7 linked regions of the Homo sapiens genome follow. The protein of the gene in region 2 purifies or fractionates together with the protein of the main gene of each other region. This does not show direct contact. Each region holds a gene or a part of one and is shown on either strand. Other genes may lie near its edges. The genes, in order: HERC4, HEXA, ARHGAP1, UBR7, STK39, AHCY and SLC44A5.

What was found.
Region 1: the proteins of HEXA (region 2) and HERC4 fractionate together in Homo sapiens (co-fractionation; one large-scale study listed by BioGRID). This does not show direct contact.
Region 3: the proteins of HEXA (region 2) and ARHGAP1 fractionate together in Homo sapiens (co-fractionation; one large-scale study listed by BioGRID). This does not show direct contact.
Region 4: the proteins of HEXA (region 2) and UBR7 fractionate together in Homo sapiens (co-fractionation; one large-scale study listed by BioGRID). This does not show direct contact.
Region 5: the proteins of HEXA (region 2) and STK39 fractionate together in Homo sapiens (co-fractionation; one large-scale study listed by BioGRID). This does not show direct contact.
Region 6: the proteins of HEXA (region 2) and AHCY fractionate together in Homo sapiens (co-fractionation; one large-scale study listed by BioGRID). This does not show direct contact.
Region 7: the proteins of HEXA (region 2) and SLC44A5 fractionate together in Homo sapiens (co-fractionation; one large-scale study listed by BioGRID). This does not show direct contact.

Annotation. Positions count from the first base shown.
Region 1 is NC_000010.11:67,988,284-67,991,783, reverse strand, and holds part of HERC4 (probable E3 ubiquitin-protein ligase HERC4), read left to right. Parts: intron 1-584; coding exon 585-644; intron 645-768; coding exon 769-880; intron 881-1,383; coding exon 1,384-1,573; intron 1,574-2,948; coding exon 2,949-3,121; intron 3,122-3,500. UniProt on the Homo sapiens protein: Probable E3 ubiquitin-protein ligase involved in either protein trafficking or in the distribution of cellular structures. Required for spermatozoon maturation and fertility, and for the removal of the cytoplasmic droplet of the spermatozoon.
Region 2 is NC_000015.10:72,351,713-72,356,313, reverse strand, and holds part of HEXA (beta-hexosaminidase subunit alpha isoform 2 preproprotein), read left to right. Parts: intron 1-689; coding exon 690-755; intron 756-2,576; coding exon 2,577-2,623; intron 2,624-3,135; coding exon 3,136-3,246; intron 3,247-4,601. UniProt on the Homo sapiens protein: Hydrolyzes the non-reducing end N-acetyl-D-hexosamine and/or sulfated N-acetyl-D-hexosamine of glycoconjugates, such as the oligosaccharide moieties from proteins and neutral glycolipids, or from certain mucopolysaccharides.
Region 3 is NC_000011.10:46,690,125-46,694,735, reverse strand, and holds part of ARHGAP1 (rho GTPase-activating protein 1), read left to right. Parts: intron 1-4,611. UniProt on the Homo sapiens protein: GTPase activator for the Rho, Rac and Cdc42 proteins, converting them to the putatively inactive GDP-bound state. Cdc42 seems to be the preferred substrate.
Region 4 is NC_000014.9:93,217,256-93,220,755, forward strand, and holds part of UBR7 (putative E3 ubiquitin-protein ligase UBR7), read left to right. Parts: intron 1-1,271; coding exon 1,272-1,480; intron 1,481-1,956; coding exon 1,957-2,106; intron 2,107-2,993; coding exon 2,994-3,156; intron 3,157-3,500. UniProt on the Homo sapiens protein: E3 ubiquitin-protein ligase which is a component of the N-end rule pathway. Recognizes and binds to proteins bearing specific N-terminal residues that are destabilizing according to the N-end rule, leading to their ubiquitination and subsequent degradation.
Region 5 is NC_000002.12:168,142,654-168,147,264, forward strand, and holds part of STK39 (STE20/SPS1-related proline-alanine-rich protein kinase), read right to left. Parts: intron 1-4,611. UniProt on the Homo sapiens protein: Effector serine/threonine-protein kinase component of the WNK-SPAK/OSR1 kinase cascade, which is involved in various processes, such as ion transport, response to hypertonic stress and blood pressure.
Region 6 is NC_000020.11:34,285,853-34,290,463, forward strand, and holds part of AHCY (adenosylhomocysteinase), read right to left. Parts: intron 4,598-4,611; coding exon 4,480-4,597; intron 1-4,479. UniProt on the Homo sapiens protein: Catalyzes the hydrolysis of S-adenosyl-L-homocysteine to form adenosine and homocysteine. Binds copper ions.
Region 7 is NC_000001.11:75,205,190-75,209,800, reverse strand, and holds part of SLC44A5 (choline transporter-like protein 5), read left to right. Parts: intron 1-3,081; coding exon of another isoform or gene 3,082-3,194; exon of another isoform or gene 3,195-4,083; intron 4,084-4,611.

The sequences.
Region 1 (3,500 bases), on a different chromosome or scaffold from region 2:
GAAATGTGTTCCTTCTGGTTTTATAATGGTCACTATCTTAACTTTTATACTTTGTGGAAGACTTGAGTATTATTTCTTTCTTGAATATTTTGTTAACTTGCCTAGTAGCACTTAAGATGTTATTTGTTTTTTGTTGGTATTTGGGATGATGGGTTGTATTTGAAAAGCTGTTTTGTTTCTCTAGCTTGTTTTCCAAAACTATAATTTTTCTGAAAATCCCAAAGGCATCCCAGATTAGGCTCACTGCCAATATAAAATGTTTAAAATTTTTTTAAATTAAAAAACTTTTTACATGAACATACACACTTAATTTTTAAAATACCATGTTTTAAAGCAGATAACATTGGATAAATGGATGAAAGTAATATTTAAGAAAGTCTAGAATAAACAGTAATACCTTCATCAAGTATTATTTTATCAGTCTTTAGCAATTTATGTAATTCTGATTCATCTAATTGGGTGTTAGAGGAGTGCTCTGTAGCATTAAACATTAGATTAATTATTCATTTTAATTCTTTTTTAAGAAAGGGTAAACAATTAAATTTCTGATTCTATGATTAAAAAAACTTTTTTAAATTTTTTAGTGAGATAGATGGAACGTTTTCTTCCTCTGGTTGCCTAAATGGAAGTTTTTTAGCTGTTAGGTAAGTGGCAATTCTTTAATATGCTGAAATTTTCAAATTTATTGTCTTAAATAGTATATCAAATTAAAAAATGAAATAATTTTAAATTTTTATTCTATTTTTTTTTTTCTTTTCTGTTTTTTAGCAATGATGATCACTATAGAACAGGTACCAGATTTTCAGGGGTTGATATGAATGCTGCTAGGCTTTTATTCCACAAACTTATACAACCTGATCATCCGCAGATATCTCAGCAGGTCTGTTTTTAAAGTATTATGTTTACAGTATTATCTGTTGATTTTGTTTTCTTTTGTTTTATACGTTTATAGCCTAATTTACTTTGCAGTTTCACAGACTCTTACGATGTGCTTTTAAAATAAGATTTTATTTTAAAGCATTTGTAATTTAGCTGTCAAAGATCTATAAATCTTTTCAGATGTTTGAAGCAGACCCTGAATTACTTAACATTACCACGTTGCTTAAGTTTGTGTATGGTTATAGAGGTAGAGAGTTTAAATTGAGACTTGTACACGTGATTTTTTAAATTCTCCAAGTAATGCTTAGGCATTAATTTTCATTGTGCTCCAAAGTATATTCATTGTAAGACATTGTCTTTCTTTTTTCTTCTTCACCATTTCATATTTGCTGTAGTGCAAAATTTTCCTTTTCTTTCTTTTCTTCCTGCCTTCCTTTTTTTTTTTTTTCTTTGAAAGTGTATTCATTTTAAATGAAGTAGGTTTTACTTTTTGTCAAAATATAGGTGGCAGCTAGTTTGGAAAAGAATCTTATTCCTAAACTGACTAGCTCCTTACCTGATGTTGAAGCATTGAGGTTTTATCTTACTCTACCAGAATGTCCCCTGATGAGTGATTCCAACAATTTCACAACAATAGCAATTCCCTTTGGTACAGCTCTTGTGAACCTAGAAAAGGCACCACTGAAAGTACTTGGTAAGAATTCTAATATTTTTTCTTTTGAAACCTTTTCTCTTTAAATGAAAATGCTTCATAAGTTCTTTTGCCATTTGCAGTTCTGCTGCCCTGCTTATTTGACACTGTCTTAGGCAAAAATGAACCTGTTTTTCCTTTTCTTGCTTTTGTCTAGTCTTTTGATTCTAGTTGTTGGAGTTGTTGAAAGAAAAACATGTTAGATATAGAAGTTCAATTAAACATAACAGCAGAGACAGTATTAGGAAAGTTAAAAACTGTCACCCGTATTCCTTTCCCTCATCGCCTTTAGTATAATCTTGCTATTAAAGAAGTAAAGGAGGAGGAACAATTAAAACTGAACAAACATGGGCTTTAAATCTTCTTGGAACCCTGATATAAGCCCTTTATCTTGTGTTTCCTTCACTTGCTAATTTCATGATATTTGATTTTATTTTTCTGCCTATAGACTAGATTTTATTGCTCATCTGATCTTGCACTTCTATCTCTTACTGTTCTGGTTTTTTGGCATAAAGTTTTCTCACTTTAATTTTTCTAATTGTCTAGATTTTATCTCTATTTCCTGGCCTTTATACTTTTTTTGCTACATTTAACCCAGTGCTTTTCTTTCTAATGGTATTTGTTAGATATGTGGAGCTGAGATATATAGAAGTAATAATGTCAGTACAAGAACTTTAAGGCTGAGGGTAAATGGAGGAAGCAACAAGCAAGGGGTAGAATATGGGAATCTGAGGGAAAAAGAGTCAAGCAGGGACTGAAAAGAGTATTGCTTTCCTGTTGTCAGAAGTTTTTGTATTCTTTCTGCCTGCTTCATAGGATTGAAGTGTTTGTACTTAGTAACTACAAATAGTGAATGTGGGGAAGGACCCATATGTTACACTTTACATTGTTCAGCTTCTGTATTTGATCTTCAGGAGTACCTTGCATTTTAAAGGTAGTGGTTCACAATATTTCAACCATATATTAAATTGAAAGATAAAAGTTAGAAAGATCCTTTAGTATTAGAGCAATACAATTTAAAGGATGTTTTGTTTAAAAATTGAAACTGTAATTTTCAAAACATTTTTTAAAAACTGGTTTTAATATTAGGTATAGTGGTGAGTTTTTTATATAACTTAGGAAACCAAGAATATAAATTCAACAAGACTTTCACACTTTATTTTTGCTTTTGAGAGCTTTTCGGACAATATTGTTTAACTTGGTCGGGGGGAGGTTTATAAACCTTACAAATGTTACATAAGATATTGTGTTATATGCATCTTTCTGGGGTTTTCTCAGGTTTAACAACTACTGTTTCAGAAAAAAAGTCAGTATGATTTTGAAAATTGTGATTTTTTAAAAAATTCATTTTATTTGCATGTTCACTTTTTAATAACAGAAAACTGGTGGTCAGTACTTGAACCTCCACTATTCCTCAAGATAGTAGAACTTTTTAAGGAAGTTGTGGTACATCTTTTGAAACTCTACAAGATCGGTATTCCCCCTTCTGAAAGAAGAATTTTCAACAGTTTTCTTCATACTGCATTAAAGGTTTTAGAAATACTACATAGGGTATGTCCAATCATTCCTTTATTTTCCTCTTTCCCCATTCCTATTAACAGATTGATACTGTTCATTTTAACATTAATCTATTAAAGATTTAGATTGGCAAAAACAATGCATATTATAGAAATTTGGAAAAGTTATCTATACTTTCTCTTAAAAGAAGTAATAAACCTGTCCTTTGGAGCTCTGGTCTTACCTGACTTTGTTAGGCATGTATAGATAACTTATCCATAGTTGGGCAGAACAATAACATACTAATGAGTTAGAATTCTCCTTATATTTCCTTATGAAGAATATAATTTGTTAGTTTGCATTATATGGTTTTTGTTAGCTGTAAGTGGTTATCTTGTGAAAGAGATTGGGTCCTAGTTGTAATTATGAACAT
Region 2 (4,601 bases):
GGCTCTTCACTGAGTCCCACAGGACTTCTACCTGGTGTACTGAATACATTTCTATTTTAGGAAAGTGTATACTTTGCTACTTTTCTCTAATAGACCCTACACTGGGGAAAGCAGGGGTTCTGGTCACTTATACTGAGATGAAGTTAAGTCATTAGTCCAGTGACTGCCTCCTGTCTTCCCTGAGCAGCATTTGGGGACTTCTCAGTCTCCAAAGTGAACAGTTGAGTTTGGCTCCTTCCTCACATTCTTGGAGGAAGTAGCTGAAGCATAGAGGAAGGGGAAAGGAGGGTGATTACAAAGGCATTGGGAGCATCGCGTGCTGCACTCACCCCTGCAGGCATCCCTGTTCCCTTTGCCAGGAGAAGACTTCTTTCATCTTTCTGCTGTGGAAACTGACCCATGAGGTAGGTGGTGCTTTGTACAGACCTCCACTCCAGCCTGACTCTTGCTGTACATCATCATCCAGGGTCTACAGAGTCACTGTGGTGACCACCCTCCCACTCTGGCCCCAGACCAGGCCATCCTACAGCTGTCTTGCTCTGGGGACATCTCCTCATTGAAAGATTTTTTAAAATATATGGTCTTACTGTTTTTTTTTTTTAGTCCAGTGATTTATATAGAATATCTGGTCTATAATCTGAGAATAGAAAACCTTAACCAACTAAATGAGTTCATTTCTGTCATTTCAGATACCCTGACCATAAATGATGACCAGTGTTTACTCCTCTCTGAGACTGTCTGGGGAGCTCTCCGAGGTAACAAATTGGGGCTGATTAAAAGAGAGAGAGAAAGGATGATGTGGGAAGGTTGGTGTTGGTGGAGTGCAGTGGCCCAGTCCCTGCTCACTGCAACCTCTGCCTCCTAGGCTCAAGCAATCTTCCCTCTTTAGCCTCCCAAGTAGCTGGGATTACAGGTGCCTGCCACCATGCCCAGCTAATTCTTGTATTTTTAGTAGAGATGGGATTTCACCATATTGCCCAGGCCAGTCTTGAACTCCTGAGTTCAAGTGATCCACCCATCTCGGCCTCCCAAAGTTCTGGGATTACAGGTGTGTGCCACCGCGCCCAGCCAGGAAGCTTTTTTTATGGGAACAATTGGCGTGTTTTCCCGTCTCTGTGGAATTGTCCCTGGAAGTTGACAGGTTTTACCCTGTGCAGCATCAGCAACTGCTGCTGCCCTAGTCAGGGGCTCTGGGAAGCAGTAGGAGAGTCTGTGGGCTGATGTTCTAGGTGCCAGCAGGGGACAGGTAGCTGGGGGCAGGGGGAATGATGCTACCACAGACACTGTCTGTCCAGCTCTTGCTAAAGACATGTAATTGGAAAGGTTTTTTTAAAAGGAAAACTATAACAAAAGAAATAGATACATGCAAAAAAAAAGATAAATAGTAGTGAAATATTTAGAACTACATTATTTCTGGAGAAAATGAGTTTACTGGCTAAACTATTGGCCCTTGCCCTTCTTCTGGGTTTACTGAGAAGGCATTTGGTGCCTAGATACAGACTTAGCCAAATATCTCTCCCACTTTTGGTAAACCCTCTGCTGGTGAATGATGTGGGAAACTCTCTCGGAATTCCACACCTTGCTTTAGTTTGTCTTCATTCCCTTGCTCCACTTCTATGCTTGGAGCAACAGCATGCTGCCTCCCCTTCCTGCCCTCTTGTACCTTTCATGCAGGTGCTGATGGTGAGTCAGGCTAGAGGTAAGGGAGGACCTGGAACTCCAGAATGCTGGGTGTCAGAGTCAGAGTGGGGAGAAGCCAAAACAGTACACTAGCAGTCTGCTCAAATCAGGTGCTGAGTGACTGCTGAGGTCTCATGGATTCTTTCACTTTGAAACTGGGGACTCTGATAATTTTCATGGGGCTTCTGCAGGGTTTCCAGAAGAGGGGCCCCAGCTGTTGAGAACATACAATACTCTGGGTTCAACATACCTGTGTGTGGGCCTTGCTAGACTCTAGGAGACAGTGTCAGTGGACTAGGGGAGTCCTTCTGGGGCAGTTGCTGTCCACCACACCTCAGCTCCCTATAGCTGGGTCTCTTCTTAGACTCTGAAGAGGAAGAGTGGATGATTTTTTTTATCTTCTAGGTCCAGCCATGAACCCAGGCTCCTTGGAAACCCAAGCTTATGATCACTTTCTCACAATTTATTCTGGGACCCCTTTTCTCAGCTCTCTTAGCTCCTGATAGGGGTTATCCATGAAAAGTCCAACTCTTGCAGGCTGAGTTGTCTCTGTGTCTGTCCTCATGAGTATATGTCTTGGCCTCTCTTCTCAATATTCTTGTGAAGGCACAGGAAATATAGATAAGAGGTATGTGGGTTTTGAAGGTTAGTATGTTGTAAGGAAGGGCACTAAAACCCTTACTCTGACATCTCCCAAAATGAAATACAGAAGTAAAGATGGATAGTGGCTTCCTAATATCCCCTTTTCATCAGTGTTAAAAATCGTCAAGCCTACACTACATCCATTTTCCCTGTGTACCCAAATGTTATGCTCTGCTACATTGAGAACCTTCCAAATAGAGACATCTCTTTTTCCACTCCCTGAGTCTTTACTCTGCCTCTCTACATCTTCCTAGGTCTGGAGACTTTTAGCCAGCTTGTTTGGAAATCTGCTGAGGGCACAGTAAGTGTGGACCCTCAAAAAGGGCTCCTTTTTCATCTCTGGGGTTGGATCCCAATATTGAGAATCCTAGAAAAATCTTGTTTTGCCTTAGGATCCTGGTGGCTTGAGATAGCCCCAGTAGAAATGGAAGAGGAGATGTGAGTGGAAAACTGGTTTGGTAGATTTGGTCTGTTTGGAATCACTGTAATTTGGTCCCCCTGAGTCATCATTTAGTAATGACCTTGAGGCCACACTGCTTTGAAGAAAATAAACTATGTTAACAGGAAAATCCAGAATTTGTAGGCTGAGTGGTGTTTGGGACAGTTGTATTAGGCTGGCGTTGGACAATTGCTCTCTGGGAAGGTGGCTGCTTATGGTCATTTATAGAGGTGGGGAGCATTTAGGGAGAGAGCGACCCTGAGAACAGTCACAGATTGGCTTTTTAAGAATCCTGGGAGAGTTGTCTTCATCTCCCTGTGCCCCCATAGTAAGCTTCCTTTGAAACTGACATGTTCAATGTTTGTTCTGCACAGTTCTTTATCAACAAGACTGAGATTGAGGACTTTCCCCGCTTTCCTCACCGGGGCTTGCTGTTGGATACATCTCGCCATTACCTGCCACTCTCTAGCATCCTGGACACTCTGGTAACCAGGCCTTAAGGCCTTCTTCACACTTAAGAGTTCTAGGGTGATGGAGCAACGGACAGACCAAGTTCCAAATTCTTAAAGAGTTAGAGAGGGAATGTATGGACTGGGTGTGGTGGCTCATGCCTGTAATCCCAACACTTTGGGAGGCCGAGGTGGGCGGATCACCTGAAGTCAGAAGTTCAAGGCCAGCCTGGCCAACATGGTGAAACTCTGTCTCTACTAAAAATACAAAAATTAGCTGGGCATGGTGGTGCATGCTTGTAATCCCAGCTACCTGGGAGGCTGAGGCAGGAGAATCGCATGAACCCAGGAGGCAGAGGTTGCAGTGGGTGGAGATCACGCCACTGCACTCCAGCCTGGGTGAAAGAGTGAGACGCTGTCTCAAAAAAAAAAAAAAAAATTGTATGTAATTCTATGAGCTCCTGGGAAAAATGTAGAAGATGAGCTGCTCCAAGACTCAAAAAATAACAGAGTGACTTAAATCTACCTTACAGGCTACTGTAGATCAATGTTCAGGCTGTTTCCAGGGATACAAATGTTTAGGGGAATTGGCTTCATTGGCAGAGCTAACTATATTTGTTTTTGAGACAGCGTCTCAATTTTTTTTTTTTTTTTTTGTATTTTTTGTAGAGCTGGGGTTTCGTCATGTTACCCAGGCTGGTCTTGAACTCCTGGGCTCAAGCAATCTGCCCACCTTGGCCTGCCAGAGTGGTAGAATTACAGGCATGAGTCACTACACCTGGCCGGCAGAGCTAACTTTAGTTAGAACAAGGTCATAGGAGAGAGACGTTCAAAGCCTTAACTTGGGGCCAGGTGCAGTGGCTCACACCTGTAATCCTAGCACTCTGGGAGGCCAAGGCGGGTGGATTGCCCGAGCTCAGGAGTTTGAGACTAACCTGGCCAAGACGGTGAAACCCCATCTCTACTGAAAATACAAAAAATTAGCCAGGCGCGATGGCGCAAACCTGTAGTCCCAGCTACTCAGGAGTCTGTGATGGGAGAATCACCTGAGCCTGGGGAGATCAAGGATGCATGAACTGTGATTGCACCACTGCACTCCAGCCTGGACAACAGAGACCCTGTCTCAAAAATAAATAAATAAATAAATAAGTGAAGGAAGGAAGGAGGCTGAGGCATGAGAAGCACTTGAACCTGGGAGGTGGAGGTTGCAGTGAGCTGAGATTGTGCCACTGCACTCCAGCCTGGGTGACACAGCAAGACTCTGTCTCAAAAAAAAAAAAAAAAAAAAAAAAAGCCTTTCCTGGGGAAGTTCCTAACTCTCTTGAGTTTAATGTGCAGTCTTATCTGACAGTTCCCAATCCAGTTCCTGTGTCTGCCTTTTCCTTTGCTCC
Region 3 (4,611 bases), on a different chromosome or scaffold from region 2:
GGCTCTGGCCTCATTCACCCCCTGCAGAAGCAAAGCTGAGAGTTTTTTCCCCAGTCTGGTCCTGAATTGGGCACGGGAAAGTCACCTTGAAGGTTCTGAACTTGACTGGAGTCTGGGGGGTACCTGATGTGAAGGAGTCTCTGTCCTGACATCATCCTGGCCTGTTTGGTCAAGGCAGAGCTGGGGGAGCCTGCCCCTCCCCACCTCCGTGGGTGACACCTCCTTCCCCACAACCCCCGCACAGAGCTGCAATTTGTTTCTATTTCCCTAGACTACGATGAGCCTGAGGGGGCCCAGCCAGGTAGGTGTCCGTCCTGGCTCGCTGTGCTTGTCCTCTTTGGACTGCAACCTCTGGGGCTGTGGATCAGGAAGGGCTCTCGGTGGAGGCCAGATGGGGCTAGCTTAATTGCAGTCTCACCCTGGGGAGCTGGGAGTTGGTGGTGCCTGGGAGTCGGAAATAGCAGAAGATTTATGGGAGGTAGGATGGGGGTGGGGGAGGCTGTGTGGGGACACACCCAGGCCCCAAAGGGAAAGGAGCTTGCGGGAGGGTCTGGCCTTGGGCAATGGCCTCTGAGTGGTGGCTCAGGGACCTTCTGGGTGATGGTGTCCCCATGGATGTGCCTCCCTGATTGCTGAGAGGAGGCTGGATTGGCATCACCAGGCACTCATTTGGTGAGACCGTGGAGATGTCCGGGAGAAGCCCTTGTAGGAAGGGAGGGTGGGTTATAGCCTCAGCTCTCCCTGCCGGGAATAGTTGTCATGCCCCAGGGTCAGATTTGGCTCAGTCCCAGTGGGTTCTTTCCAGTGGTGTGCTGGTAAATGGCTCTCTGGAGAGGGGGAAAAAGGCCATGATTTGTAGCATTTGCAGTTTCTGCCTCCCAGCTCTCTAGCTACCAACATGATGTCAACTGGCTTGCAAAATTCCTGACAGTTGAACAGCTTAACAAATGTGTGAGCTGGCTGTAGCACATGACTGGCTCCATCAGCCCAGCCCTACCTCCCAGGTCCCAGGCCTGCTGGTCCGGTTGTGGGTGGGGCTGGTTTGAGGGGGCCCAGAATGCCTGGGGAGACCTGTTGGTGATTAACTCCAGGGCCACCCTGGAGTTAGGACCAGCCTGGGCAACATAGTGAAACCCTGTCTCTACAAAAATAATAACAATAAATTAGCCAGGTGTGGTAGCCTGTGCCTGTAGTCCTAGCTACTTGGGAGGCTGAGGTGGGAGGATCCTTTCAGTCCAGGAGTTGGAGGCTGCAGTGAGCTATGATTGAACCACTGCACTCCAGCCTGGGTGATAGAGCAAGATCCTGGCTCAAAGAAAAAAAAAAAAGATTACAGTCTAGTGAAGTGGTTCTTAAAACTGGTCACAGTCCACTTTGCAACTATGAAAGGTATCCCCAGGATAGGGGGGATCTCTTTGACTGAAAAAAAAAAAAAGTGCAGCCAGGTGCGGTGGCTCACACCTAGTAATCCCAGCACTTTGGGAAGCCAAGGCTGGTGGATCACGAGGTCAGGAGTTCGAGACCAGCCTGATGAACACGGAGAAACCCCGTCTCTACTAAAAATACAAAATTAGCTGGGGTTAAGGCCAGGCGCGGTGGCTCATCCCTATAATCCCAGCATTTTGGGAGGCCGAGGCGGGCGGATCATGAGGTCAGGAGATCGAGACCATCCTGGCTAACACAGTGAAACCCCGTCTCTACTAAAAATACAAAAAATTTTCTGGGCGTGGTGGCGGGCGCCTGTAGTCCCAGCTACTCAGGAGCCTGAGGCAGGAGAATAGCGTGAACCCGGGAGGCGGAGCTTGCAGTGAGCGGAGATCGTGCCACTGCACTCCAGCCTGGGCAACAGAGCGAGACGCCGTCTCAAAAAAAAAAAAAAAATTAGCTGGGTGTGGTGGTGCATGCCTGTAATCCCAGCTACTCAGGAGGCTGAGGCAGGAGAATCGTTTGAACCCAGGAGGTAGAGGTTGCAGTGAGCTGAGATCACGCCACTTCACTTCAGCCTGAGCGACAGAGCGAGACTGTCTCAAAAAAAAAAAGTGCACATGCTTGTAATATTTGTCATATAACATCATGGAGGTGCTGTGTCTGCTGAGCACATTGGTGGAGCCCTGGTTCAGAACCCAAAGCTTCCCACTTACAAAGTGCTGTGGCCAGCTGAGAGGAGACACCACAGGCCTCCAGCCCTCCCCCCAACAGCTTCCCTAACCAGTTGCTACCTCTTATATTTTAGACCCAGGGGCCTCACAGACTTTCTGCCCTGGCTGAATCCTCAAATCTGCCAGCCAATGAGGCCTGCCTTGCTGCTGGTGCAGATGTGAGGTGCGGGGACTCATGGGCTGGAAGGAAAGATCCTTTTGGTAGCCCCCATTGTCCTCGAGCATTTCCCCCAAATCCTGGTTATTTCCTCGCTTAGAAGGAGGTAGGCAGATGAGGCCCCCTCTTCCCAGGCTGGTGGTAGGCATCTCTGGGGTTTCTGAAGCTCCAGACTAGTGAGACTGGGCTTGCCAGTCTAACCCTTTGTCCCTGGCCCCTGCCAGTCTGCTTTTCCTTCCACTGTCAGAGCCAGTGGGAAGTGAATCAGAGCAGGCACATAGCCCCAGAGCCACCCCCAGCTGGCCTCCGGGATCTCAGCACCTCAGGATCTAGGCTAGGGTACGAAAGAGAGCAGGTACCACCTGGTCCTTCAAAACAGACCTGCCGGGATGGAGCTGCACCTCCTCTGCAGACAAGCTGGTAGAGGATTCTCTACTTGCAAATCTGGAGACGTTCTGTCCTGAGCTTTGGGAAACTCACTATCTGAAGCAGTCTGACCCATAACCAAAGCATAATCAAGAACAAACACAGAGGCCAGGTGCTGTGGCTCATGCCTATAATCCCAATACTTTGGGAGGCTGAGGCGTGCAGATCATCTGAGGTCAGGAGTTGGAGACCAGCCTGGCTAACATGGTGAAACCCTGTCTCTACTAAAATACAAAAATTAAGGCTGGGCATGGTGGCTCACACCTGTAATCATAGCATTTTGGGAGGCTGAGGCGAGCAGATCACCTGAGGTCGGGAGTTTGAGACCAGCCTGACAAACATGGTGAAACCCCGTCTCTACTAAAAATACAAAAATTAGCTGGGTGTGGTGGGACATGCCTGTAGTCCTAGCTACTCAGGATGCTGGGGCAGGAGAATCACTTGAACCCGGGACGCAAAGGTTGCAGTGAGCCGAGATCGCGCCATTGCACTCCAGCCTGGGTAACGAGCAAAACTCCATCTCAAAAAAAAAAAAAAAAAAATTAGCCTGGTGTGCTGGCACCTGCCTGTAGTCCCTGCTACTTGGGAGGCTGAGGCAGGAGAATCTCTTGAACTTAGGAGGTGGTGGTTGCAGTGAGCCCAGATCACTCCACAGCACTCCAGCCTGGATGATAGAGACTCCATCTCAGAAAAAAAAGAAGAACAAACACAGAAATATAACTAGAACCAGGCATCCCATAGTTTAATGGTGACCTGCGATTTTGTGCAGGCTACCAAAACGTATTGAATACCTGCCACATGCCAGACACTGGACCAGTACTGGAGACTGTAGGTGCCATGGTACGCAACTGTAATCCCAGCTACTGGAAAGCTGAGGCAGGAGTTCAAGACTAGCCTGGGCAACATAACAAGATTCTGTCTCAAAAAATTGTTTTTAATTAAGCAGGTGGGATGGCATGTGCCTGTAGTCCTAGCTACTCAGGACATGGGAGGCTAAAGCAGGAGGATTGTTTGAGCCCAGGAGTTCAAGGCTGCAGTGAGCTACAGTTATGCCACTGCACTTCAGCCTGGGTGACAGAGCAAGACCCTGTCTCTTAAAAAAAAAAAAATCACAGCTTGCCAGGAGTAAACAAAGAAAAAGAACAAACAAAGACAATGAGACACAGCCTCTGTCTTTGAGCTGCTCACAAGCCTGTCAGGGAGACAGGTACATAAACAATTCTACAGGAGAGTGAAGGGTCAGGACAGTGATGGGTGACGGTTTATGCTGGGAGCCATGAAAAGGGGCAGCTAACCTGTCTGGGGAGAGAGGGCGAGGACACAGGATTCCAGGCGGCGATTATGCCTGCATTGAGTCTTAAGGGTTGGTGGGGGCCCTAGAATATCTTAATGAGAAAGGATAGAATGCTTAGAAACCTACAGAAGTCAATCAGAACCAGTGTCGTCCATAATTCTAGTAATAAGCTGGGTGCAGTGGTGCACACCTGTAGTCTCAGCTGCTTGGGAAGCTGAGGTGAGAGGATCACCTAAAGCCAGGAGTTCAAGAACAGCCTGGGCAACACATTGAGACCCCCATCTCTTTTCTTTAATTTTGTCTTTTTTTTTTTGAGACGGAGTCTCGCTTTATCACCCAGGCTGGAGTGCAGTGGGGCGATCTCGGCTCACTGCAAGCTCCGTCTCCTGGGTTCATGCCATTCTCCTGCCTCAGCCTCCCGAGTAGCTGGGACTACAGGTGCCCGCCACCACACCTGGCTAATTTTTTTTTTTGTGTGTGTGTTTTTAGTAAAGACGGGGTTTCACCATGTTAGCCAGGATGGTCTCGATCTCCTGACCTCATGATCCGCCCACCTCGGCCTCCCAAAGTGTTGG
Region 4 (3,500 bases), on a different chromosome or scaffold from region 2:
ACCTCAGGTGATCCACCCACCTTGGCCTCCCAGAGTGCTGTGATTACAGGTGTGAGCTACCATACCCAGCTTAATTGGGTTTTTTAAATTGATCTCCTGCCTCTCCCTTCATTTCCTCTCCCATCAGCAGATGGCTTCATCTCCTATTACATTGAAATGCTGGCATCCAATGTGAGCTCCCCTATCGTTTCTCTTCTCTGTCTCAGAGTATATCTGCCACTACACCCATCATTTTTTTTATTTCTTCCTCCCATAAAGAAAAGCTGTTTTTAAAAAATTACCCTTCTGTCTGTGTTTACAATTCAATCTCTTCCTCCTGCTTCTTGTATTATTCTGTCTCTAACAAGTACAGTACAATATTTTCTCCTTTATGTGTAAAGTGCTTAAGCAGTGATTGATATTTTCAAATAAACTGTTTAATTATTTGAATTCTTTGGGTTAGGCAGACATAACCTAAAGAAGCGTTGGAATTTTCTTTCTCAGTATTTCGGAGACTACGGTGGACTAATCTCTTTTTCCAGATTCTGAAATATTTTAATATCAGAAAAAGTGATTTTAGGTCAGATGTGGTGGCTCATGCCTGTAATCCCAGCACTTTGGGAGGCCGAGGCAGGTGGATCACCTGAGGTCAGGAGTTCCAGACCAGCCTGACCAACATGGAGAAACCCCATCTCTACTAAAAATAAAAAATAGCCAGGCATGCTGGTGCATGCCTGTAATCCCAGCTACTCAGGGGGCTGAGGCAGGAGAATTGCCTGAACCCAGGAGGTGGGGGTTGCAATGAGCCAAGATCACGCCATTGCACTCCAGCCTGGGCAACAAGAGCGAAACTCTATCTCAAAAAAAAAAAAAAAATAGCAAAAGCTATTGTATGCCTGATGTGGTGGCTCACACCTGTAATCCCAGCACTTTGGGAGGCTGAGGCAGGCAGATCACTTGACATCAGGAGTTCAAGACCAGCCTGGCCAACATGGCGAAACCCCGTCTCTACTAAAAATACAAAAAATTAGCCAGTCATGGTGGCACGCACCTGTAGTCCCAGCTACTCGGGTGGCTGAGGCATGAGAATTGCTTGAACCTGGGAGACAGAGGTTGCAGTGAGTCAAGACCATGCCACTGCACTCCAGTGTGGACGACAGAGTGAGACTCTGTCTGTAAAAAAAAAAAATAATAATAATAGAATAAGTGATTTTATTGTCTGTTGGGATTTTATTGTCCGTTAGGTCAGTGGATATGTGTGTATGTGTTTTTCTTTTTCTTTGAACTCACAGTAACCAAAATATCCACTGAGGATGATGGATTGGTGCGGAACATTGATGGAATAGGTGATCAGGAAGTTATCAAACCTGAAAATGGAGAGCATCAAGATAGTACCCTCAAAGAGGATGTTCCAGAACAGGGAAAGGATGATGTCCGGGAGGTTAAAGTAGAGCAGAACAGTGAACCATGTGCCGGCTCTAGTTCTGAATCTGATCTCCAGGTAATGTGTGAAGTACGAGCCATCAAGAAATAAGACTGGGCCAGGCGCGGTGGCTCATGCCCATAATCCCAGCACTTTGGGAGGCTGAGGTGGCGGATCACCTGAGGTCACGGGTTTGAGACCAGCCTTGGCAACATGGGTAAACCTCATCTCTACTAAAATTACAAAAACTAGCCAGGCATGGTGGCACATGCCTGTAATCCCAGCTACTCAGGAGGCTGAGGCAGGAGAATTGCTTGAACCCAGGAGGCGGAGGTTACAGTGATCCGAGATCATGCCACTGCACTCTAGCCTGGGCAACAGAATGAGATTCCGTCTCAAAAAAAAAAAAGAAAACTGAAGTGGAATTAATTCTGTAAACTTATGGCTTTGGATTTCAATTTTATCCTTTGCCTAAAGAAATCTCTTTACAAAATCTAAACTATGAAAACTATGGTAGTTTAAAAAACATGCTTCAAAACTTAATTTTATTTCAGACAGTGTTTAAGAATGAAAGCCTCAACGCAGAATCAAAATCTGGCTGCAAACTTCAGGAGCTTAAAGCTAAGCAGCTTATAAAGAAAGACACTGCCACCTATTGGCCCCTGAACTGGCGTAGCAAGTTGTGTACCTGCCAAGACTGTATGGTAAAGTATCTGATTGTGCTCAGTGTTAGCATGTTTTGTGTACTGGTGCCCCAAAATAAGAACACCTGGGGAAAACATTCAATTTTTGTACCAGAGGAAGAAAGGAAAATAAAAAGAACACCTGAACAATATATTTATGAAATTAATGTTTAGGAGACCCTCCAAATTTTTACATTAAGCAAATTTATGACATAGTACTTACAGTTGGAATGTTTGTGGAAGAAATGGATAATTATGCAGTATTTTAAATTTACTTATTTTAATTTTAGTTTACTTATCTTTGTTATATCAAAGTTGCTTGGAAACACTGGTTGAAAGTTATAGTAAATTGGCCAGGTGCTTTGGCTCACGCCTGTAATCCCAGCACTCTGGGAGGCCAAGTTAGGTCTCGATCACCTGAGGTCAGGAGTTCGAGACCAGCCTGACCAACATGGTGAAATCCTGTCTGTACTAAAAATACAAAATTAGCTGGGTGTGGTGGCACATGCCTGTAATCCCAGCTCCTTGGGAGGCCAAGGCAGGAGAATCGCTTGAACCCAGAAGGCGGAGGTTGCAATGAGTCGAGATCATGCCATTGCACTCCAGCCTGGGCAACGAGTGAAACTCCATCTCAAAAAAAAAAAAAGTTAACAGTAAATCAATGGTTTTTAAATAAAGATCTCATAGACCATATGACATCTGGGAAATTGGGAGATTTCTGAAAGAAATTTAGGCAAAAAGAATAAATCCTTCTAGCAATTCTGTGTTAAAGACGCTCCAGTTTTTCTAGGTCTTAATATAAAAAAATTACATTTTTAGTGATTCTCAGGAAATTGGCTTTCTGAGAATGATAAACAGTTCTAATGGGGAAACTCCTCTTTCTTTTTTTTTTTTTTTTTTCCCTAAAGAAAATGTATGGAGATCTAGATGTCTTATTCCTGACAGATGAATACGACACAGTTCTGGCTTATGAAAACAAAGGGAAGATTGCCCAGGCCACTGACAGGAGCGATCCCCTAATGGATACCCTTAGCAGCATGAATAGAGTCCAGCAAGTGGAACTCATTTGTGGTAAATACTGTGTGTGTGTGAAAATTCATCATTTCCTTCACTATGTAAAAAAATATAAAGGGGGCAGTAAACACCTATATTTTTAATTTAATACAAAGAATTAAAATTTTGAATTTTAGACCATTGCTTGATTTTCATATTGGTGGGTATTCAGCTGCTTTTACCATTGAATCAGAGTTACATGCTAGAATAATTACATGCTTGAGAAACCACAACATATGCTATTCTGATTAAGGGTAGATGGATGAATGCAAATTTTCCATCCATTGAAACAATTTTTGGACATTATGTGTCATGTTCTTGAGCAAGGCATGTCACCATTTTGACAGTTCTTGAGGTTGCTT
Region 5 (4,611 bases), on a different chromosome or scaffold from region 2:
TGACAATACCCTTTCAATATATCTGTAATGATACATACATTCAGAGCCTCCACTTTGAACACTCACTTTAAAGTCATAAACAGATGGCTAAATGTCTTTAAAACTCAGAACAAAAATTTCAGGAGCAGAAAACAACAATCCTAATATCTACTCCCTCTATGACTACAGAAGAAATATACAATTTGCTCCTATGTACGGCTGATGTGTATACAGATTATATGTACTCAGTAACAGAACATTTTGAGCAAAGTACATAGTGTGCTTATGTTATATACACAAAAAATTGGTATATTATATTGAGATAGCTTGCATATGACAGTTAGAACAAGGTGGCAGAACTGTAACAGTGAAAAGCTGTCCTTGTTTCCTAAGGGGTACATCTATACAGCCAAAGGGAATGCAGCCAGATTCACTTGGGTACAAAACCACAGACATTTCTCTAGAAACACAGAATCAAAGGCTACACATAAAGTTAGCCAGTCCATCTCCCTGCCTCCAGGAATAACTGGAGGATATGGGTAAATGCTGCTTTAAGAAAAACAACAACAACAACAAATAATGCTGTCATCCTAATAACAAAAAGGGTCTAAGACCTTCTGAATCCATCCACTTCTTTGCTCCTCCACAGCCACTGCCTTCATTTAATCCACCACTACTTCTTGCTAAGATTTCTGCAGCAGCCTCCTAAGTTCCCATCTCCCTTCTTTCCCCAGATCCAGGCTCCAGCAACCAGGCCTTTCTATGTCACAGGCCTGAGCCCTCCTTAAAAGACTTTCAGGACAGGAGCGGTGGCTCATGCCTGTAACCCCAGCACTTTGGGAGGCCAATGCAAGTGGATCACGAGGTCAGGAGTTCAAGACCATCCAGGCCAACATGGTGAAACCCCATCTCTACTAAAAAAATACAAAAAATCAGCTGGGCCTGGTGGCACGCGCCTGTAGTCCCAGCAACTCTGGAGGCTGAGGCGGGGGAATCGCTTGAACCCAGGAGGCGGAGGTTGCAGTGAGCTGAGATCATGCCACTCCACTCTGGCCTGGCAAGAGAGCAAGACTTTGTCTCAAAAAAAAAAAAAAGTCTTTCAAGGCTCCCTGTCCCCTCAGGAAAAAGTCAAAATCCTTCAGCATAACACGTAAACCTATATCACTACTCTCAGATTCAGACAGTAAGCTCCAGCCTACTGAATGACTTACTTTTTATTCCCTGATCCCATCACCTCCTTGGCCTCACCAGCATTGCCCTTGCACATGATGCTTTGTCGTCTAGGTACATCAACCCTCCATGCTGAACAGGTGCACCAGCAGAAGGCTTTCTGCATGACCTTGTTAATGACACAGCATCTCCGGCACCCTGGCTCTTGGTGAGTAATTTGATGTGCATTCATCACCTTTGCGTAATTTGATTTCAGTAACATTGGTCATGGTCTAGTTTTGATGTGTGAATGCTACTAAGCCTTGAGGAGGATCTGCAGGTATGGTTATCTGATTTGGAGAGTGGCAGATCTACTAGGAAACATTACAGGACTAATGGGCAAGATCTGAGTGTTAACAGTGATTAGGCCTAAGGCTAGACTATTACCCAACTGTATGACTCCCGAAAGGGACTTAAACTTTCTGGGCCTTATTGGGCTTCTTATTTAGGCCTATTTTTATTTATTTATTTTATTTTTTTGAAACAGAGTCTCGCTCTGTCGCCCAAGGTGGAACATAGTGGCATGATCATGGCTCACTGCAGCCTCAACCTCCCATGCTCAAGCGATCCTCCTACCTCAGCCTCCCAAGCAGCTATGACTACAGGCATGTGCTACCATGCCCATCTAATTTATTTTTATTTTTTGTAGATATGGGGTCTCTCTATGTTGCCCAAGGTGTTCTCAAACTGTTGAGCTCAAGCGATCCTCCTGTCTCAGCCTCCCAACGTGCTGGAATTATAAGCATGAGCCACCATGCCGAGCCTCAATTTCTATATTACTTTCATATTTATAAGACTCATTTTTTTTTTTACCATGTATGACTATTCTTTATAACAACTGTTAGGTAGATCGATAAGCTACTCACTGCCTTTTCATAAGCAAGGCAAGCAGGCTGAGGGGATAAGCATAAATATTTTACAGTGGCAGAGATAAAATAGGAGAAGACATGTTTCTTGACTTCAACAATATTTGTCGGGCATGATAGTTCATTAGGTGGGTGCGGTGGCATGCAACTGTAATTTCAGCTACTCAGGAGGATGAAATGGGAGAATCGCTTGAGCCCAGGAGGTCGAGGACGCAGTAAGCCATGATCATGCCACTGCACTCCAGTCTAGGCAACAGAGTGAGCCCGTCTCAGAAAAAAAAAAAAAAGAATATTCCCACCTAAGTAGGATAAGATGTATAAAATCAAATACTATATTGTCTGTGTAGAAGCAGAGGAGCTATAACCATAATGGTCATAGAAGACTATCTCCAAAGTGGGTCTTGGAGCCAGCCTTCAAGATGAGGTGAAGACTTGGATGAGCAAGTCCAACAGGAAACAAATTCCAGACAAAGAAACGGCATGAGCAAAGCACAAGTGTGGAGCCAAGAAGAAAAACTGACAGCTGCAAGGGTCAAAAACTCAAAACACCTACAGCAGCCAGGCAGGAATACAATGGAGAAAAGAGGGTCCTGAAAAACAACAGCTACAGTCTCAGTGACAAGGGCCCTTGATGCTCAGTCTCTGTGACGGGAGACTTTAGGAGTGCTGGGCCCTGTGTGAAGCCCTGGAGCCCACTGTCAGCACCCTCCCACCAAGGTCCAAGGCAGGCCCCTGCTGCTTGGCACCAGAAGAAAGTTGCCATAGAGAAATGTAGACCCAGGATTGCTGGATATCCCAGTTTTCCCAAAAAAGCCAAACATTGGAATCTTTATGAAAAAGCTCCCTTTCTTACTGTAGTTGGCAACAAATTCATTTTTAAAAAAATAGAAAAGCGATTTCTCCTGCCTAATTTAGTCCGCAAAACTAAAGTCTGCCAACTGTGTGGTTATGATGTCTAAAATGTACCTAAAATACTTCAACATATGCCATGTGATATTATGTTTGTGATACCACAACCTAGGTGGTCAGCTGGCATTCTAACCAAGAATGTCCAGTGCTGGGGGGGTTCTGATAGCACTCGACTCAGGATGCCAGAGGCAGCTGCTGGAAGTATTTCTATTATCCAAATCTAAATATAGATGAGCATAAGCCAGGTGACTGATTGTCCAAAGGGGTTATTATTAGGGAAAACAGTGACCTGTTGAGAGGTATGATACATGTTAGAAATGGGCTTTCACTGCTGAAAATAAAGGTTCTTAGCACCAGAGAGTGGCTAAAATATTTTAGATATACTCCTTACTCTTGCATGAACAGAATAAAACAATCCAGTCCAGTCCAACTGTAGACTATACCCTAGCCAGTTCTGTGGATGGTTGGATTCCTAGTAGCAAGCATAAGGATAAAGCAAAAACTGCATCTGGAATCTTGGCATGTCTGCCTCTAATGAATTTTTCATTCACCTATGAGGAAAAAGAACTGGGATTTCCTTGAGCTTACAGAACAAATTGTGAGAACTGTTTAGGGGCTTGCTTGCTAATGAAGGGCAAAATTTGGTCTGAAAGTTGATTTCTCTAAAACCTGTAAGGGAAGCTGTGGGTGAGTACCCAAGCCTCACCTACCTCAAACTTCTACAGTATCTGCTATTCTCTTTGAAAAGGAACCTGAGTTGTGCATGAACAACATTGACTCTCTTTGATCAGAGAGTAACGGGATCAATGTTTGAGAGTTCAGAGCTTCCTAAAATGTAGCTACAATGAGTTAAAAGAGACACTGATGCCTAAGTGGCTGGGTGGGAGTCTGGAGCAATAGGAGCCCCCATAGCTTCAGGGGACCCTGAGAGTTCTTTCCTACAAGCAGCTTCTTTTCCACAGAGGCCATTATTTTTAAAAGCAGGGAAGTACTGGGTGAGATTGTTGAGGGGCCCAACCAACCACAGAGTCTGAGCACCAGGTAAGGGAATTTGTACCTGATTCAATTAACAGCTGTTGTTCCCTCTCTCGTTAGAGAAGAACAACATTTGGAAAAAGTGACCATGCAGGGATGTTCAAGAAAGGAAAAAGACTAGAAGCAGAGAAGACCACAACCATAGCCCAGGAGCAAAATCAACAGAGCCTGTATATGAATAGAGAGGTTGGAAATGGAGAGGATTAGACCAATTCTTAAGAAAATACGATGATTTAGTAGATATTGGAATTAAGAAAAGAGGAAGGAATAAAAAGATTAGATGACTTGCCAAGGAACACACAGCAAGTTATCGAAGGTCTGAATAAAATTCACAGTCCTTCAGAAAGGAGTCAGCCACTTAGCCCTAGTCTCCTCTTCCGGAAAGTTCAGTGTATTTTTCTTTATTGAGAAGGAAATGCAAAATGCAATAATGGGGTTAAGATTCCGCAACTCCTAAGCTCTTCTCTGAGTAAAGATCAAGTTGTGATTACCCAACACAGAAAAACTGGTTTGAGGTTCACTGGTTAATCCTAAATGTCATATTTATATCATGAAAACCTATCTCTTTATAATTTGGTTTGATTCCCAGTTGTTGTTTTTTTCTCATGAGAGA
Region 6 (4,611 bases), on a different chromosome or scaffold from region 2:
CACTTTGGAAGGCCGAGGCAGGCGGATCATGAGGTCAGGAGATCGAGATTATCTTGGCCAACACAGTGAAAGCCCGTCTCTACTAAAAAAAAAATACAAAAAATTAGCCGGGCGTGGTAGCAGGCGCCTGTGGTCCCAGCCACTCGGGAGGCTGAGGCAGGAGAATGGCGTGAACCTGGGAGGTGGAGTTTGCAGCGAGCCGAGATCGCACCACTGCACTGCAGCCTGGGCGACGGAGCGAGACTCTGTCTCAAAAAACAAAAAACAAAAAAACAACAAAGAAATGCTGAGCTGCAGACTGCACAGTTCTGCTGTGAGAACTTCACGTGCTCACACTTGCTTGGCGCATATGAGGCACTCAGTAAGCAGCAGCTAATGTTATCGTTATGATCACTGTCATGTGCCCTGTACTAAGTCCTTTACAGGTAACTACCACATTTCATCCCAGAAACAACCCTGTGATTTCAGTACTGCTGTCATCCCCATTTCAGATTCAGAAACTGAAGTTTACAAGGGTTAGGTCACTTGTCCAGAGCCACACACTAAGAGGAGGCTGCAATTTGAGTCTGGACGGTCTGAGGACAGATCCCATGTTCTCAATAACCATGAAATAGTTTTGAATGCAGCTTAGCAAAAGCTGAATGCCGTGGCGCTCACATTGGAATCACCTCAGAAGCTTTAAAAAATGAGGATACCCAGGCCAGACGCGGTGGCTCATGCCTGTAATCCCAGCACTTTGGGAGGCCAAGGCGGGGGGAATCACCTGAGGTCGGGAGTTCGGGACCAGCCTGAACAACATGGAGAAACCCTGTCTCTACTAAAAACACAAAATTAGCCAGGCATGGTAGCACATGCCTGTAATCCCAGCTACTCAGGAAGGCTGAGCCAGGCGAATCGCTTGAACCTGGGAAGCGGAGGTTGTGGTGAGCCAAGATCGCGCCATTGCACTCCAGCCTGGGCAACAAGAGCGAAACTCCGTCTCAAAAAAAAAAAAAAAAAAAAAAAAAGATACCTTGGCCTCATTCCCAGAGACTCCTATTCCTGTGGCCCACAGTGTGGCTCCCAGGTGACTGCCAAGGTTGAGAACTCCCGGTTTAGTGAGTGAACGTGACATGGAAATCCCCAGCCTCAGTGCCCCAGTCCTCCGTCTGTCCCAGCTGTCTGAACACACAAACTTGCTTTCTCCCCACTCCCAGCTCTTCCCTTGCCATCCCTCCACCCTCAGGCAGCCTCCCAAACATTTCCCCAAAAGCCCAGGTTTCCAAGCTGCTCCAGAGGCCTAGTACCGATCCAAGGAAAGGTCTCTGATGCCCATCAGGCATTGATTGATGCTTCAATCAATAAGCACTCACTGATACCCATCTAAGCCCCTTGCAGGGACACGTCAACCTGGACTCTACCCTCCTGGTACAACAGTGGGGTCAGAGACCAAAGCCAGTGATGGATGCTGCACTAGGGGTCTGTACTAAGAGTGTGGGCATTGCCTCTGCCAGAGGAGCTGGCCAGGAAGGGGGTCTCTTTTTTATTTTATTAATTTTTTTTTTTTTTTTTTTTCTGAGACGGAGTCTTACTCTGTCATCCAGGCTGGAGTACAGTGGTGTGATCTCAGCTCACTGCAACCTCCACCTCCTGGGTTCAAGCGATTCTCCTGCCTCAGCCTCCAGAGTAGCTGGGACTATACGCATGAGCCACCATGCCCAGCTAATTTTTTGTATTTTTAGTAGAGACAGGGTTTGACCATGTTGGCCAGGCTGGTCTCAAACTCCTGACCTCAAGTGATCCGCCTGCCTCGGCCTCCCAAAGTGCTGGAATTACAGGTGTGTGCCACCGTGCCTGGCCAGAAGGGGGTCTCTTGAGCTGGGCTGAGAAGATGAACAAGGAGAAGGGCATGTGTTCTGTTCCAGACAAATGCAGCTGTCTGGACAGATGAGCAGAAGTAGGAGCTGCAGTGGGTATTCAGGGAGTGGTCAATTATGGCCTGAGTACAGAGGCCCTTGAGAGGACGGACAAGAGATAATGTTGGGCAGAAGGTTGGCAAGACTGTCAAGGATGTTGAGGGTGGGCATAGAGTCCAGCTTTGGAGGGCAGCTTGGCAGAAAGGTGCCCATCACCCCAATGTAGCAGGTTTCACCTGTGATGCCTTTGCAAAAAGGAGGTCTAGACAGATGGCTGTCAGGGGTGTGGCTGCCACAGAAGCACGCCCTGGCCACCCCCACACTGTGATGAGTGCCAGGCCTTCTAGGCAGAGATGGAGGTGCCCTCTGCCTAGCCGGGAACTGACACCCTAGACTAGTGCAGGACCTAGCCAAGGAGAACTCCCACGCAGGAGCAGAGCACCCAAGAGGAGCAGTGTAGGGGATGTGGGTTCATAGAGCTGCCTGTCTGCCTCTCTGGGACTTGGGCTTCTGGTGTGGCTGTGACTGGGTGGGTGTCAGGGCTTTGGCCAACTCTGTGTCTGTATCTTCCTTATCATATCTCAAACACGGCACAGCACCAACTCAAAGAACCTCACATAGGTGGGCTTTTCTCCCTTTAAAAAATGTGGTGGACCTGGTGTGGCAGCTCACGCCTATAATCCCAGCACTTTGGGAGATAACTTAAGCTCAGGAGTTTGAGACCAGCCTGGGGAACACAGCAAGGCCTCGTCTCTACAAAAAATAAAAAGTTAGCCAGGTGTAGTAGTGCACATCTGTAGTCCCAGGTACTTGGAAGGCTGAGGCAGGAGGATCAGCTCCTTCAGCCCAGGAGGTCAAGGCTGCAGTGTGCCATGATCATGCCACTGCCCTCTAGCTTGGGTAACAGAGTGAGCCCATCTCAAAAAAAGAAAAAAAAAATGATGAACATCTCTACATACATATTTAATTATCCTAAGGACCAATTATAGGAGAGATTGCCCAGTCAAAGAGGTTGCTTAACTTTAAAGCTCTTGATATCCAAAGCCAAAATGTCTTCCAGAAACATACTACTTTTATAATCAGAGAAAAAAATAAACTCATAATAATTGCAACTCAAGTAAAACTTCACACCCCCTATAAGAACTCATCTTCCAGTTTCAGTGCCCCAATGCCCAATGCAAACCTGTTCTTTCCCAGCTCAGTGCATGGGCCTGCTCCTCACACAGTGATTCAAGCTGTGTCCCTTTTTGTTTTTTGTTTTTAGTTTTGTTTTTGAGATGGAGTCTCGCTCTGTTGCCCAGGCTGGAGTGCAATGGCGCAATCTCGGCTCACTGCAACCTCTGCCTACCACGTTTAAGCGATTCTCATGCCTCAGCCTCCCGAGTAGCTGGGATTACAGGCACCCACCACCATGCCCAGCTGATTTTTTTGTTTGTTTGTTTTTGAGACAGAGTCTCGCACTGTCACCCAGGCTGGAGTGCAGTGGAACAATCTCGGCTCACTACAACCTCCATCTCCCGGGTTCATGTGATTCTCCTGCCTCAGCCTCCCAAGTAGCTGGGATTGCAGGTGCACATCACCACACCCGGCTAACTTCTTGTATTTTTAGTAGAGACGGGGTTTCACTATGTTGGCCAGACTGGTCTCAAACTCCTGACCTCGTGATCTGCCCACCTAGGCCTCCCAAAGTGCTGGGATTACAGGCATGAGCCACTGTACCTGGCCTTTTTTTTTTTTTTTTTTTTGAGATGGAGTCTCACTCTTATTAACCAGGCAGGAGTGCGAGGGTGCGATCTCGGCTCACTGCAACCTCCGCCTCCCAGCTTCAAGCAATTCTCTCCTGCCTCAGCCTCCCAAATAGCTGGGATTACAGGTGCCCGCCACCACACCCGGCTAATTTTTCTATTTTTAGTAGAGATGGGGTTTCATCATATTGGTCAGGCTGGTCTCGAACCCCTGACCTCATGTGATCCGCCCGCCTCGACCTCCCAAAGTGCTGGGATTACAGGCATGAGCTACCGCACCCGGCCCAGCTAATTTTTTTGTATTTTTAGTAGAGACGGGGTTTCAACCATGTTGGCCAGGCTAGTCTCGAACTCCTGGCCTCAGGTGATCCGCCCATCTCGGCCTTCCAAAGTGCTGGGATTACAGGTGTGAGCCACCATGCCCGGCCAAAGCTGTGTCCTTTGTTACTCTGCCTCCATCCTGACCCCACATGCCGTCCATCCACCCCAGCACTCCCTAAGCTGAGGCTGCCATCATCCCCTGCAGGGATTCTACGAGCCTCCTCTAAAAGCCTCTCTCCCCACCACCCGCCATTGTTGCTTTTATTCTGCACACAGTAGCTAGAGTGATCTTTCTAAAACTACAGCCTCACCACATACAGCTCACCTGCCTGATACCTTCAGGGATGCCGGCTGCCCACAGGATAAGGTTGCCACGTCTGGCTGGCTCTGATGCTAGGCCCTCTTCTCCCCATCCCCCTGCACAGGTTGCCACCATCTCCTCAGCTCTCCTCCCTGGCAGCCAGCACTCCTCTGCACTCCCATCTGCCCAGCCCACTGGCAAGGCGGGAGCTTCTCACCTGCGGCTTGATGTTCACCTTCTCCACGGCGTTCTCGTTGAGCCACTTGACATCGATCTCCACGTCAAAGTGTCCAATGTTACACACAATGGCATCATCCTTCATCTGCTCAAAGTGCCTGTCAGGCAGCCC
Region 7 (4,611 bases), on a different chromosome or scaffold from region 2:
TGTATAAAATTTACAGTTTGCATTTTAGAATAACCCACAGCACCAACTTCACACTGGGATCAAGAGAGACGATAACTATAGGGAGATATATTCAAAGAAAACCTCCTGGAAAAAAGTCTGGCCTTGTTTTTTGTTTGTTTGTTTCTGAGCCTGTTAAAATCAATTCTCAATAACCGGACAAAGAATTCAAGAGAACTTTATGTACTAGTTAGCTCTTCCTCTGGTTGTAAATGGAAATGAAATGTTTAATGTTTTCCTAGTGCTTCAGTGGTCTAAGGAAAGCCATCTATCTACAAAATATCACATGAACAAACAGTTCAGGTATGGGATGGAAGAAGGAGCACGAGTAAGGTCAAGCACTAAAACATGGTGGACGCAGGGCTCTAGAATGCTCAAAGATCTCTCCTCTCATCTCCAACATTAACCATGGGAGCAATAACTGGAAATCACTATGTGACCTTCCCCATTCTTGTAGCTGAAAATACTTATGAAAATTTGTCTCAGGAAATGTCTAGAACCTACTAGCTTCCAGTCTTTGGAAGTTTTGGCTAATATGTGGATTTTAAGTTTGGCAGTTGATTTTGAATTTTGACAGTAAGAAATGTTTTCCACCATCTTTATTAATTGCCAACTCCTTGAAAGCCAGGTACATCAGCTTGATTCAGTGTATTGCATGTTGACATGAATCATTTCCTTTCAGAGACACTTGTCTGTGATAACAAAGAACAAGGAAACTTAAATTGTGTTTCTCTTCCTCCCCTAGCTGTTACTATGGGCAACATCACACTTTGTAAAATATTCTTCTTAAATGATGCCCTGAGCCAAATTCTGAATGTGTAGATTTATTTATTTATTTATTCCTATTGTCTTGGCTGCCAGAAAACTGGTGATTTTTACAATGCAAACCATTTGTAAACACTTCATTTTTAGAAACATGGAATCTTTTTATTATTACAAGGTACTGAGATTCATCATCTCAGAGTGGGAAAAAAATAATAGTTGTAGATGCTTATTAATGTGATCCAGGCCAGACTTCTTACCAGTACCTTAAGAGTAATAACAAGATAGATATGTTATATACAGCAGTAATCTCTCCTTATCCATGGGGGTTACATTCCAAGACCCCTGGACATGCCAGAATTCTCTAATAGTACCAAACCCAATTGCTGTCAATTGGAACATGTTTCCGTTTATGTCTTCCATCCACAAATGTAATGCCTTTTCCATCCTAACTAAGCACTTATCATACACTGTGGCCATAACTTTTGCAGTTTGAGATACAACAAAACTAGCTTAAAATTCTTTTTTCTTCTTCACAATTTCACGTATAAAAAATTTGTTTTGCCGGGCATGGTGGCTCACGCCTGTAATCCCAACACTTTGGGAGGCCGAGGCCGGCAGATCACTTGAGATCAGGAGTTCGAGACCAGCCTGACCAACATAGCAAAACCCTGTCTCTACAAATAATACAAAAATTAGCCAGGCATGGTGGCAGGTACCTATAATCCCAGCTACTCTGGAGGCTGAGACAGCAGAACTACTTGAAACTGAGAGGCAGAGGCTGCAGTGAGCTGAGATCACGCCACTGCACTCCAGGCTAGGTGACAGAGTGAGACTTTGCCTCAAACAAACAAACAAAAAACCGAAGATTTGTTCTTATGTAGATCTTAGCAACCTCAGTATAAGTTTATTTCTTATTAACTCGAGAACTTTCACCTTTTCACTTAAAGGAAGCATTTTACAGCTTATCCAAATTGCCAGCAACACTAATCTTGCAATTTGGGGCCATTATTAACTAAAATAAGGGTTACCTGAACACAAGCACTGTGATCTTGCAACAGATAACTGAGAAAGCTACTAAGTGACTAAGGGAAGAGCATCCTAGACAGCAAGGTGATGCTGGATAAAGGGAGGATTCCCTGCCAGGGTGGGATAGAGCTTGACGGTTTGAGGTCTCATTATGCTACTCATAATAGTACACAATTTAAAATTAATGAGTTGTTTATTTCTGGAATTTTGCATTTCATATTTCTGGACCTTGGGTAACTAAAACCACAGAAAGTGAAATTGTAGAAAGCAAAACTGGGTAAGAGGGGACTATTGTATAGAAATAGGATTAAGGACAAAAAAAAGCAAAATGTTCAGCGTCTATCATGTTCCCTCTTTTGCTTTTCATTTTGTATGTGAGGAAGGTCACTGTGAGCGCTAGTAGAAATCTACTAAACCAATGACCCAACCATTCCCAAGACTATAGCTACTATCTGCTGTGAATTGTATATATCTGCGGGAGGCTTAATTTCATGCAAATGTATCCTTGTTTGTCAGCATAATTCTGGTGCTTCCTCCCAACTAGCCAGCAGGTGGGTGGTCAGTGAACATGCCATCAATTTAATATTAGCCTAAGCAAAGCTGAAAGGTAAATTAATGTATTATGAGAGTCAGAATACATTGACATTAGCTTTCAAATACAATCTGAGGAAGACCGCAAGAATTTAGGACAGGGTGCCTTATAGTTAAGTAGAACAAGAGCAAAACTAGGTGTCAAGAAGCTGGGTCCCTATCTCATCCTATTTACCTCAGAGCTTTTGACTTCAGCGAGTTGTTTTATATCCCTGGGCCTCAGGGTGTTCGTCTGTAACATCGGAGTATGGACTACCATTAGAAGTGACTTGAAAGTCTGAAATTCCATTATTATTCTACATTTATCACAGAATTAATATACTTCCTATTCAGCTCCATCCCGGAGGATTTGGCAATTTATATCTTTCTGAAATGAACAGTTACAGAATTTAAATATGACACTTTTTTGAAGGGACATAGAATATCTTCTTAGCCTTTAAAGTATCAAAATACATCTCTCTGGGAGTGGGAGGGATTTAGGAAGTTTCAGTGTTTCCTGGCAGAGGTTGAGGTTTCTTACCTTGCCCAGAATCAGCAAGTAAACTGCACTAATTTGTCTTATATTTGACTTTCTAACACTGATTTTTCTGATTTTTCCCTGTTCGACCCTCCAATTTATAAAAATGTGTATAATTGTTCTGCTGCTTCTGCTTTTGCCTGCTTTGGCTGCTGCATATACAGGTGAAGATCTGGAAAGAAATGATGGATCTACAGAAAAACCCTACTTCGTAACCCCTAACCTGCATGGAATTCTGATCAAGAAGCAACTAGTTCCCCAGAAGCAGAAAGAGTAGAAAAGCTCCAAACAGTGTCACTCATTTTTAAGTAGAAGTTGTGTAAATTAGGTTGATTGTAATTTGGAAATGTTGCTTTTGAGTAATGTGAAATTTCTGTGCTTAATTCTAAGAAGTCAGCACCTGGTACTACCTGAGGTGTCAGGTATTTGATGACATTAGCTGCTGTCTACTTTATAGACAGTGGTCCCAGCTAAAGATCAAAATGTTAATGTCAAACGTTTTTTAAAATCTGTAGCCGAGAGTGTTTTAATAACTTTTATAACTCAGCGTGCTGTTTCCATTGCAGCACTTTAATAGCCTTTCTTTTTATAAGTGTATATTTGTAAAGGATATTCAGGCAATTTTTGAAAACACTATAAATGTGTAATTAATTAGCCATAAAATATTGATTTATAGTTAACCAGCATATGGTACTAAATTTGTAAATATGGTGCTATGGTTATATTTATACTGTTCAAGCTGGTGGACAACTCTCTAAACTGTGATTAAACTTGTATTAATGGTTCCCTAGGAAGTATATTTCAGTGAGTCATGTCCATAACAAACATAGATGTTAATGTTATATAGGTTCTACGGAGAGCATTACTGGGTAAAAAATACTATGGAACCTTCAGAGCCCATTCTGTTTTAGTGAAATCATGTTTATATTGAAGTCGAATCTGAGTTCTGGAGTGTCATTTCCAACAACATGAACCTCTGTCCATGGTGAAAATATTCTGAACAAAACTGAAATTGTTACATAACTCATGCCTTTTGTCTTTAACCCAAATTTCTTATTCCCACTATATAGAAAATCAATATGAATTTGTTTCAGAAGAGTGATTATATCTTTTCATGAGTATACCTGTATTTCTAGATTAAAGAGATTGTGTGGCTTTGTTCTACAGAAGGTTTGATTTTGTCTCACCTTTCAGTGAGGAAAGAGAAAAGAAAGACACTTCAGATTTTACCCTAAGGAAATATACTGTTGGCGCTCCATCATCTAATACCTTTATGAGGGGCATACTGTGGGTTAGGAACTCTCTCTCTGCAGGGCTTAGGAGGAAAGTTGTTGCCACCTGCCACCGCTGGCCGCCTGAGGTTTCTGATAGTCATGTGTAAGTTTTGAATGGCAGAACAAAGCATGAATCAGACACACATCTTGCCTAGCCATCCCCTGTGTGCAAATGTGTATGATGTGGTTAACCATGTAAAAATGCACCCCAAAAGGAGCATTGAATCAATTTGTATTTTCTTGGCTTTTACCTTAAACTTGTATATAAGGATTATTTATATATTGACAGAAAGGAACATGTTGATCTGAATATCACTCATATATCCAAGAAAAGAGTCAGAAATGTATTGTTGTGTTATAGATTGATCTAAATACGTATTAATTATCTTCAAGTGTAGACACCTAGATTTAAACTGACTC